2 separate regions of the Homo sapiens genome follow, and region 2 is linked to region 1. Evidence: fine-mapped expression QTL. A gene starts in region 1. The other region holds a variant in brackets. All regions are shown on one strand. Distances are from middle to middle. Region 1 holds the start of ACADSB (acyl-CoA dehydrogenase short/branched chain). Region 2 overlaps ACADSB (acyl-CoA dehydrogenase short/branched chain).

Region 1 (5,381 bases):
CCCTCCCCAGATACCTGATCTGCTGGCACCTTCATATTAAGATTTCCCAGCCTCCAGAACTGTGAGAAATAAATGTTTGTTTAAACCACTCAGTCTATGGTAATTCGTTACAGCAACCTGAACTAAGATATCTAATCATATCAACCAAAGAGAACAATATCCCCATACTTTATGATGATTGTTCCTTATGATATAGCAAAATTCCCAAATCCTTCCTGTGATTATTCTGATTAAAGTTAAGTTGAATATAGTATGGAATTCCATGGGGTGTAGGTGGATATCTATATAGAAACTGGCTAGGGTATACCTAAAGTATTGTCATGCCAGTAGCGTCCCCCAATTTATTATTCAAGGCTCAAAATCAATGCTTTCAGAAAACAACCAGAGGCTATGCAAGCCGGTAGGGGGAAAAGAGGTATAAGAGAATTAAGCTTTGATATCCCAAAGAACAGGAAAACCTCTACCTCAAGTAGGTAATTTAGGCTAATTTCCGATCTTCCTTGGTTTCTGATAAAGGATTTATTTTGTATGAAGTCGTCTGATCTTTCTTCTTCAGTCTCATAAATGGGAAGCTGTTGATCAATGCAAGCATATATACAAGCACACACACACAATTACATGTGTGTATATATGTGCACCCCCCCCAGCCTCTTAACCAGTAGCTAATAATTTAAAACACAGGCACTGAAATGCAAATTAGAAGGCATTCACAACTATGAAACAACCAGAGAAGAAGCTCTCTAACCTATCTTCCTTCTTCCTTCTATCTTTTTTATAAACTGTGGGAGAATTTTGAGAACATGATTAGGGAACAGCAGGATATGTTTCGTTCACCTAGCATTCATGAGAAGTCTTACTTCTCATAGGTAACCATAAGGAAGAATACAATATTAGCAACTAATTTACTTACATAATAATTTATGGGTAAGGCAGGCCTATACACATAAAGTGATTACAGTTCAATAGATGTGTTTACCCTCCATAGCCTAATAATTATGGTCACTGAGATTTACTCTGCTATAGAACACATATAAACAGACAACGTTGACAAATAAGGATTGGTTTCTATGGAGTAACATGGGCCTTCCAAAATAATTGGAACACAATTCCTGATTTCAGAACTGTCAAAAACTCTTGAAGGCAAAAAAAGAAATTATGAGGCTCTGAGAAATCAGAAATCAAAACATAAAAATAAAACATAAGTAAAACCATGTTGAAAGAAATCCAGAAGAGAAATTATACAATCTAACCTTTTCACCCCAAATCTGTTCCTCCTTTTTCTTGCCACTCCAACATTGATGAAATGTAGAGTAATTGAAATTTACTTCGGAGATACAGCAAGGGACTCCAAAAGGCCATGGAGAGAGAATTTCAACTAAAATTGAAAAGCCATACAGAGGTCTGCATAAAAAACAAACAGCACACCACAAATCAAAACCTTTAAGATAAAAACTTAATTAGCATCTACAGGTTGAATGAGCTAGTAACTTATGCCAATCTTATCATTACATTAGCTGAAAAGAAAACGAACTGACAGATTAATCAAAGAACAAAGCAGTAGCTTCACTTCAGCAAAAGCTCCATAGGATCACCAAAGAATAACTGGTGTGACTACCGTTTTCTCACTGGTGGATTAGTTTTTGGCAAGATTTTTAATGTCTAAATTTAAGTTAAACTTCAGTTTAAAGAAATTAAGATTAACTTCATTTAGTCACAGCACACTTCCAAAACGGTCAAGCTTAGTACTGCTGAACAGCTGTAGTTGCATAAAAACAACGCATAGTCCTAAGTAGGGAAATGGGAAAGGGCTTTAAATACAAAAACAAAAAAAACATGCACACCCGATAAGGGCACATCTGAATCCCATCCTTCTTATCCTATCATAACACAAAACAGCTACGGTTTTCTGGGAAACATCCTGGACCGCTAGGGGAAAATAACACCAGACATTTCAATTCACTGTAACGAACTCTCATCAATAATAATAACCTTTAGCTGTTGTGACAACACGACATAAATCAAAATTAAATTGAATTTTTAAAATTGTTAGTTCCTACGTTTAAAAAAAAGTTGTTTTAAATACATTCTGTTCTTTCAAAACTGAATTTCCTCAGATCACACAATTTAAGACGCCTTTATGTCTTCTTCCGCTTGTCACACGTCTTTCGGGTTCTGACCAGCACATCAAGGGGACTCTAAGCAGGCCACGTGGTTAGTGTTTGCTAGAACTTGTTTAGCTTCAGATCCAGTCATCGAGCATGCTAGGCTTGGCTACTCGCGCTCCACACAGTTTATCCAAAGATCTAAACCCCGAATGAACCTGAATAGTTATTTGCTACAATGTCTTTCTCAAATCTCACATGTTCCTAAAATAAGGGTGCCCATGCAGTAGAGACGGATCCGGGCAGGATCATTAGATAAAATACGAAGGCTTTAAACGTCCTTCTCCCAACAATCAGCCTGGGACCGGCGTCGGGGCAGCAGCCTCACCAAGATTCGGAGCGACATCCTCGCCAGGATTCGAAACACCTAGGAGACCCGCGCCCGGCTGACTCCCAGCCCCTGGGACCCCGTGAAGACGCAAACCTCGGGACGCCTCCCGCAGAACCACCTGTCAGAGCCAAGCAACAGTCCCCGCCCCGGAGCCTCCGAGCTCCTGCTCGAAGGCAATGACAGCAGGAGACCCCGCTCCCTCGGGGTTCTCGCGGCCATAGGCGCCGCAGTCCACTGCCCTCCGGCTAAAGAGGTCCCGGGCCATCACCTGCCCGCCTACCGACCACGCCCGACCCTCCACTGAACTGAGTCTCCGTCCGGATCAGCCGGCCCGCCACGAACCCAGCTCCAGTCTCCGGCCGCTCCTTCTTATCCGCCCTGTCCTGCCGCGTCGCCGCCGTCCGAGCCGGCAGCCTGCTACTTACCTCCTGACAACTGCATGGAGTAAACCACACCGCCTTGTTAAATGCCGTCGCCGCCGCCGCCGTCTTCGTCACCGTCACAGTCGCCGCCGCCATCTTTGTTGTGTCTCCGACTCCCTTCCCGCCCCCCTGCCTTGCTCAAGTCTCGCGTGAGCAGGATGGAGGGCGAAAGCGAGGAGGGGCCTGTTTGTCTCTCTTGGGGTTCCGTAGGCAGCAGGGGGCAGGGATTAAGGGGGGGTGTGTGCGGGGCGGGTACTGAGTGGGCGGGGCCTTGCTCGGGTAACTCCCAGGGGCTGGCTAGAGACCCAGAGGCGCAGAGCGGAGAGGCCTGCGGCGAGGATGGAGGGCCTGGCAGTGCGGTTGCTGCGCGGCAGCAGGCTGGTGAGTGCGTTCGAGGCTGGCGTCCTGGGGGCCCAGGGCGACCTTGGCCCCTGGAATCGCAGCTGGCAGAGCCTTCTAACGGGCCTCGGGGCGCCGGCCTGAGCCCCGCTCCACGTCCTGGGTCCCCAGACTCTTTACCCGCGGGCAGTCTATGACCCCGACCCCCTTCAGGCCTCTGGTGGAGGCAGCTGGTGGCAAGGGGGTCGGGGCTGTCTAGAAGCTGCTTTGGCGGAGCAAGTACCTTGAGTGGAGTCGGAGGGTCGCGTCCGCAAGATGTCCTTTGCAGGCCGTTGCGTCCTGAGAGCCACCGAGTCTGGATCTCTGGATCTCTGGATGCATTTTGCACAGATGTCACCTCCCTGATGCCCTAACGCACCTTTCCCGAGTGATTACATTTCACACCCCCTCCCCCAAAAAAGATAGTTAAAATATAGGCCCAGTCTCATTCTGAGCAGGTGTCTCCCTGTCCTTCCTTCCGCGGCCCCGCTCAAAGGTAGTAAGGGACTTCGGAGTTGTTCGGGCTTCCCGGCCAGGGACAGAGTTCCCTCTGCCCCTTATCTCATGTCTGGAGCCTGGGTATCTTCCGTGGATAGACTCACCGCCGCCCAGGGGAGCCGGAGCCGGTGCCGGTCCCTCTTCCATGAACTTAAGCTGAAACCAGCCTCTTGTTGTGCTTAATTCTTATCTGTGCACCCACACAAACTGTTAACAGCCCCTGTGTTAACATCCTATGCTCTTCACCCCTTGGACCTATTATATAGCATGCTTTTCAGAACATACACATTTGGATACACTTGTATTTGTCAGTACACTTCACTGGGAATTTTCCCACTGCTTACGTGTGCTTTTAATGTTTCCTTTGCATTTGCTTTAATGAGTTAGGCTTTCCAACTGCTGCTTCAGTCTTATGCCCAGAGGCAGAACTCTGACCCTTTTTCTTATTAGAGATAATTAATGTTATTTGACTGTTTTACAGGCCTGAAGTGCAATAAAAAACAGTAAGTGATTATTGTTTAATACTGTTTATAATTGTTGGTTAATAACTTAGCAAAGAAAATTTCTTTGGTTTTACAATTTGACTCTGTTTTAGAGCCAAAATTTATTGACCGCATACTCTGTGGTAGGCACGTTCTCGTTCTACCTGAGTCATCTCAATTCTCACAACCATCTTAACAAGTAGTTTAATCTTGCAGATGCTGAAAAAGAATAATAGCTTGCCCACAGATAGAAAGGGATAGAGCTGGTGGTATTCGAACTCTGGTCTGATTCTAAACTTAACCTTCATATACTACTGTCTCCCCGTCCTTAGAGATATCAAAAACCTATTTTGTTTGAACTTTTGGTTTATTGTGGCTTATAGTCCTTTATAGTTTTTGAAGCTCTTTTACATAAATTAGCTAAATTGATTGAACATCGACTGTAGCATAGTGGTTAAGAACGTAGGTTCTGTAGCTAGGCTGCTTGGATCTGAACCCAGGCCCTCTCACTTCCTAGTGGTATAACCTTGGACAGGTTATGCTTTGGGTCTCAGTTTCCTGGTCTGTAAATGGAGAGAATAATTGTGCGTATTCCAAAATTGTTGTGAAAATTAAATGAGCTCATATGTTCATGTAAGGCACTTAGAATAGTGCTCGGAATGTAGTCAGCTCTCGGTAAATATCAGCTCTTACTGCCATGCACGAAGCATTGTGTGCTATGCCAGATGTAATAATGAATAAAATACTCTACCTCCAAGAAGTTTATCTTTTAGAGGAAAGGTTAGAACTATGTGCAACTAACCCCATGTCATGTAGGTGTGGAACAAATCCTAAGGGGCTACAGTCTGCGTGCAGATTCAGAAGATAGAAATGACTAGGACCATTGGGGAAGTGATAGGCTCTTTGGAAGCTGGGTTAGAGTTTAGGAGGGGAAAGGAGTGGTCAGAAAACTGCAACAAAAGGGGACTGAGGCCACTTTAGGGAATTGGGGGTTGATCCTTTTGGATTGTTAGGAGCCATTGAAGGTCAAGAGCTTTGGAGTTTCCTCATGCCACAGTGTAGGTAGATGGCTGTGGACACAAGTGGCATGGAGTGGGGAGAAATGCAA
Region 2 (5,359 bases), 29 kb after region 1:
TCACCTTTTTCTCCCCAGACAGGATCTCTGGAGCATAGTGGTGCAATCATGGCTCACTGCAGCCCCACCTCTGGGCTCAAGCTATCCTGCTTCAGCCTCCTGAATAGCTGGAAAAATATCACCTTATTATTCCTCTGGTCATGAATTGGGTCTACAATATGAAGTCACATATGACAGGATTGAAAGATATGTTCATCTAAATTTGTGATGAAGAAAAGCAATGCATATCCAATATTAAAACAACAGAATAAAAGGCTATGTAGTTAAAAGTGAAGACTCTCCCACCCATGTTCTCTAGTTCCCCAGTTCTTGCCACCTTGTTACCAGTTTCTTATATAGCCTTGCAGAGTTAGAAGTACATTTATATTCCACTTTTCTTTAGATAGTGGGTTTTCTTTTTCTTTCTTTCTTTCTTTTTTTTCTTTTTTTTTTTGAGATGGAGTCTCACTCTGACACCCAGGCTGGAGTGCAGTGGCGCAATCTCGGCTCACAGCAACCTTTGCCTCCTGGGTTCAAGCAATTCTCCTGCCTCAGCCTCCTGAGTAGCTGGGACTACAGGCACGTGCCACCACGCCTGGCTAGTTTTTTTGTATTTTGTTTTTTAGTACAGACGTGGTTTCACCGTGTTAGTCAGGATGGTCTCGATCTCCTGACCTCATGATCTGCCCTCCTTGGCCTCCCAAAGTGCTGGGATTACAGGCGTGAGCCACCATGCCCAGCCTAGATAGTGGGTTTTCATACTTTACGTGGAATTTCAATTTTACCTTTATCTATGAAACACCTGTGGTTGAAACACGGAGCCCAAATGAAGCAGAAGTTGTATACCACTAAACCTTAAAGCAGTTTGCATTCATTTATTTATGGGTATAGATATAGGTGTAAAATTATGATATATTTAAAAATCCATAGCAGAACATCAGAATGTTGTTCTTAGAGAATATGGATGTTAAGTGTATTCGTTTTCTATTGCTTGGTATTGAATCACTACAAACTTAACAAGTTAAAACAGCACCGGTGTAGTGGCTCACAGTTCTGTAGGCCAGAAGTCCAGCTGGAGCAAGTCCAGGCGCAGGGTCTCAGAAGGTCAACATCAGTGTGTCAGTTGGGCTGTGTTTTCGTCCAGAGCTCAGGGTCCTTCCAAGCTCCCGTGGTTGTGTCAGTACGCAGTTCTTTGCTGTTGCAGGGCTGAGGTCTTGTTGCCCAGCTGGCTGTCAGCCAGAGGTTGTCCCCAACTCCTGGAGGCCTCTGTATTCCTTGCCATGTGGCTCCCTCCATCTTCAAAACCAGTAACTCTCCCTCCCAGCATCGAGTCTCTCTCATCCTTAAAACCTGTTTCACCAGAAAGAGCCCCACCTTTTTTAAGGGCTCACCTGATTAGGTCAGGCCCACCAATCTCCATGTTTTAAGTTCAGCTGATTTGGAAGCTTAATTGTAAAATCCCTTCACAGCAGCACTTAGATTCATGTTTGAATAACTGAGAGAGGACATGTATACACCAGCGGCTGGGAATCTTGGCACTGTCTTAGAACTCTGTCACAATAAGTAAATTTCTTTTCTTTCTTTTTTTTTTGAAAGGGAGTTTTGCTCTTTTTGCCCATGTTGGAATGCAATGGCACTATCTCGGCTCACTGCAACCTCTGCCTCCTGGGTTCAAGCAATTCTCCTGCCTCAGCCTCCCAAGTAGCTGAGATTACAGGCGTGTGCCACCACGCCCAGCTAATTTTGTACTTTTAGTAGACATAGGGTTTCACCATGTTAGCCAGGCTGGTCTCGAACTCCTGACCTCAGGTGATCCACCAACCTCGGCCTCTCAAAGTGTTGGGATTACAGGCATGAGCCACTGCGCCCAGCTAGTAAATTTCTTTTCCTTTGCTCCCTCGCCTTTTAGATATGGTCTCAGGGAAGTGAGTTTGGGATAGCTAAGGAAAAACAAGAGTGAGTGGTTAGTTTACATAAATCAAAGAATTTGCTTAGAGTATCTTGATTCTCTGTCTTCAGTCTTATTTATTTCTTTAGTATCCACCTAGTCTAAGCACAGAAGCAATAAAGATGGGCAAGAAAAAAATCACTGCTTTTAAGGAACTCAGAATCTAGTGGCAAAGACAGTCGAATAAAGGAAATAGTTTCAGAATAACATGGTAAATGTCATGGAGGTATTTGGGGAACAAAGCAGAGAACACCTAGACTTTGCTAGGCGTGGCAGAAGTGGGCTAAGGAAGCAGTCAGGAAAGGCTTCCCAGAGAGTGTGGAGCTTGAGCTGTACCATGAAGGACAAAGTGCAGTTGGCCAGCTGGACAAGGGAAGGGAAGAGATTCTACATAATGAGAGTCGCGTGTGCAGAAACGAAGGAATACTGAAGCAAGCCACATGCACTGAACCCGGTTGCCTTCTCTACCGACTTGGTATTACATTGGTAGTAAACTTAAGAAGGTGTTTTCATCAAAATGATTTATAAATGCATCTAAGTCTTAAAAACATTAAAAAATGAAACAGCGGTTTTCAGTGGGGGCAAGTTTGCCCCCAGCGGACATTTAGCAACATTTAGAGACATTTTTGATTGCCACAACTTAGAAGTAGGGGACGCTCCTGGCAGCTAGTGGGGCCGTGGCCGGGCTGCTGCTCAACATCCTGCAATGCACAGGACAGCCCCACAACAAAGACTCACCTGCCCCAAAATGTCAATAGTGCCAAGGTGGGGAAACCCTGTTCTGTATGACCAAGCAGCTATGAAAACGACCAGGTTAGATGGGATATGCTGACATAGAAAGATCATCAAGATATAGTTGAGGGGAAGCAAGGCACACACCAGTGTGTATCTCATGATTCCTTTGTGTGAACATGTATGTGTACAGTTAAGTATAGATGATTTTCAAAGAAAAGTTTTCAGAAAGAATACATAATAAATTTAAAATTAGTCACCTTTGGGTAGAGTGGAAATG[G/A]CTTTCATTTTTCATTTTGTGCTTTCTTTATTGCTTGTGTTTTTGCACCATCTACACATATCATTTATTTTGTGAGGTCATCAAGAGTTACAAAGGGATATGGGAAACTACACCTTTCTATGTTAAAAAGAAAACTTTATAAATTCTATTTTAAAAATATAAGAAGGGTACCTGTGTATATTTTAACTTAGTTAAAATGTAAAATTTTGTCAGCAAACTATTAATGTGACTGTCACTTTAACATAGACTTATCAGTAATTCTTTTTCCTACAGTTAAAAAATTTGCTCAGGAACAAATTGCACCTTTGGTTTCAACCATGGATGAAAATTCGAAAATGGAGAAATCAGTAATACAAGGATTATTTCAACAAGGGGTACATTTCATAATTCTTCCACTTTCAAGCTTCTATAATTAAATTCAGGGACTGTAATGATAGCATAATGAACCCTGCATTTCCCAGTCAAAATTATCTGTTTTCTTTTTTTGGTTGAAATCCTACTTGATATTTATGTACTTAAAAGTTCTTAAAAATGGAATTAACATTTTTTAATTTGAAATACTGTATATTTTAAGGAAAAGTTTGGAAGTAAGATGGTAATTTATTTGTATCTTTAGACCAGCGGTTCTCAAATGGGGGCAGTTTTGCCCTCCAGGGGACATTGGGCAACGTCTAGGGACATCTTTGGTTGCCACAGCTAAGGCGTGCTACTGGCATCTAGTGGGATAGAGACAAGGGATGCCACTCAACATCCTGTAGTGCACAGGACAACTGCCACAACAAAGAATTATCCAACCCAATGCCACCATGAAGAAACCCTACTTTAGATAGTGAAACTTCATAGCATAGTTTATATTCTACCTGAAGCTCTATATAAGTGATAAACTTAGAAGCAGAGGTGATACATGAATTCCACATAAACCGGGCAACAGATTCCCATCTTCTCAAGTCACATAGCTCTTTAATGGAAATACAACGTATGAAATAGATACAAGTAAAACCGCTCTCACTGTGAGTAGGGGGAGGGGCTATTAGCATAGGGGCTTCTAGAAGAACATTTTAAAAATCACTGCACGCATCATTTCTCACTTCCGCAGAGGTATAAAATATATTTTTTTTAATTTTTAATACTAAAGATGTCCCAGAACAAGTGGCTGCTATTCAGAGCCATTGGCCTAAATCTTGTCTGCCATCTGGTTTGAAAAATAACCATTGCCACTTAGCTAGATAGTTTTATTTATTTCTGTTTTAAAGCAACCAGCTTTTTTATACCGTGTGTAGTAGTGATTCTTCCATCTTTCTTTTAGCAGTCAAACTCTTAGGAAACTGGAATCTTATGTGGAACCATAGTGGTCAAACAGGAGGCCGATGTGGAGAACAGATGGACTCTGTGAGTCCATTTCTCAGCCAGGTTTTATTTCTATTGCTTGCAGACCCTCTAGGCTTCTGGGAGCAGTCTCACGGTTTCACAGTGTGAGATCTCCCCCGCGGTGGTCGTTCCTGCAGCGGGGCTGTCTGCAGAGTGATGCATTGCCTGCACCCTGCTACTCATCTCCACAAACCACTCCTGTGCAGATGCAGCCTCACCTGCCTCCTCACTCCCATTGTCCTGGGTTTTTGGCATAATGGCTTGCAAAAACACTATTTCCACGTTGGGAGAGATTAGTGACTTTTTTAGAGAAGCAATGTCTCTGATATCTGTTCGAGTCATTGTAATGAGGTTTCCGGAGTGCCCTCCTCAGTTCTCAGGCAAACCCAGATCCTTCCGTTCTTCCTCGTTTCTGGTTTTCTCACCATTCAGTCGCTCGCATTTCTGGTTCCCTTTTCCTGTTGTAGCCCAAAATGTAACAGCCACAGCCCTGACTGCAGCATAGTGTGACTCCAGGAATGTCTAGAGAGAGACTAAGAGAATTATCCTTCTGTTAGCAGCTGTGGGTTTTGAATTACACATGCACACATTCTCTTTGTGAAATTGAGAGTACTATGTGAGTTTCAGTAACGATGGAACTGGGTCGTTGGAAAGGCTTGGCTGGCACTGGTCGTGTTTACCAGGCCCTCGTGCTTTGGCTAGTGTGGCTCTAGCAAACACCACCACATGTTCTCTGCTAACCATCCTGAACTTATGAAGTGGCGTAAAAGGAATGGTCATTCAATTATTAACTTGGCTGAAAAAGTCAAGGTGAAAGAGCCTGACTAGAAGAAACTTTGCCAAATGAAACTATAGACATCCCATTGAGGAGTAGGTTATTTTCTTCTGTTTCCTTATTACATTGAAATCAGCATAAGGTGGGTAGGGCATGTTGAAAAATCAAAACCCCACCTACCTGCTTTAAGCAGGCAACAACAGTTCTTAGCAAGAAAGGTCATCTAAGTATATAAGATATTTTCTCATTCCATTAAGCTACCCTTTAAAGCATTTTA

Evidence for each region. PIP is the estimated chance that this variant, and not a neighbour inherited with it, causes the effect. A credible set is the group of variants that fine-mapping cannot tell apart.
Region 2: its variant is the best candidate, but not a certain one, in a credible set for the expression of ACADSB in skeletal muscle (GTEx, PIP 0.56).

The regions. Positions count from the first base shown.
Region 1 is chr10:123,005,776-123,011,156 of GRCh38, forward strand. ACADSB (acyl-CoA dehydrogenase short/branched chain) reads left to right here and starts at 3,231. Exons shown (of 11, transcript NM_001609.4): 1 at 3,231-3,296. The coding sequence starts at 3,255. IKZF5 (IKAROS family zinc finger 5) reads right to left here and starts at 3,020. Exons shown (of 5, transcript NM_001372123.1): 1 at 2,919-3,020; 2 at 1,251-1,401. RefSeq lists enhancers at 2,297-2,526, 2,807-3,136.
Region 2 is chr10:123,034,535-123,039,893 of GRCh38, forward strand. It overlaps ACADSB (acyl-CoA dehydrogenase short/branched chain), which reads left to right. Exons shown (of 11, transcript NM_001609.4): 3 at 3,213-3,313. Among named protein-coding and RNA genes, the nearest start is that of ACADSB, 28 kb to the left of the region's middle. The variant G/A (reference allele first, on the strand shown) is at 2,940.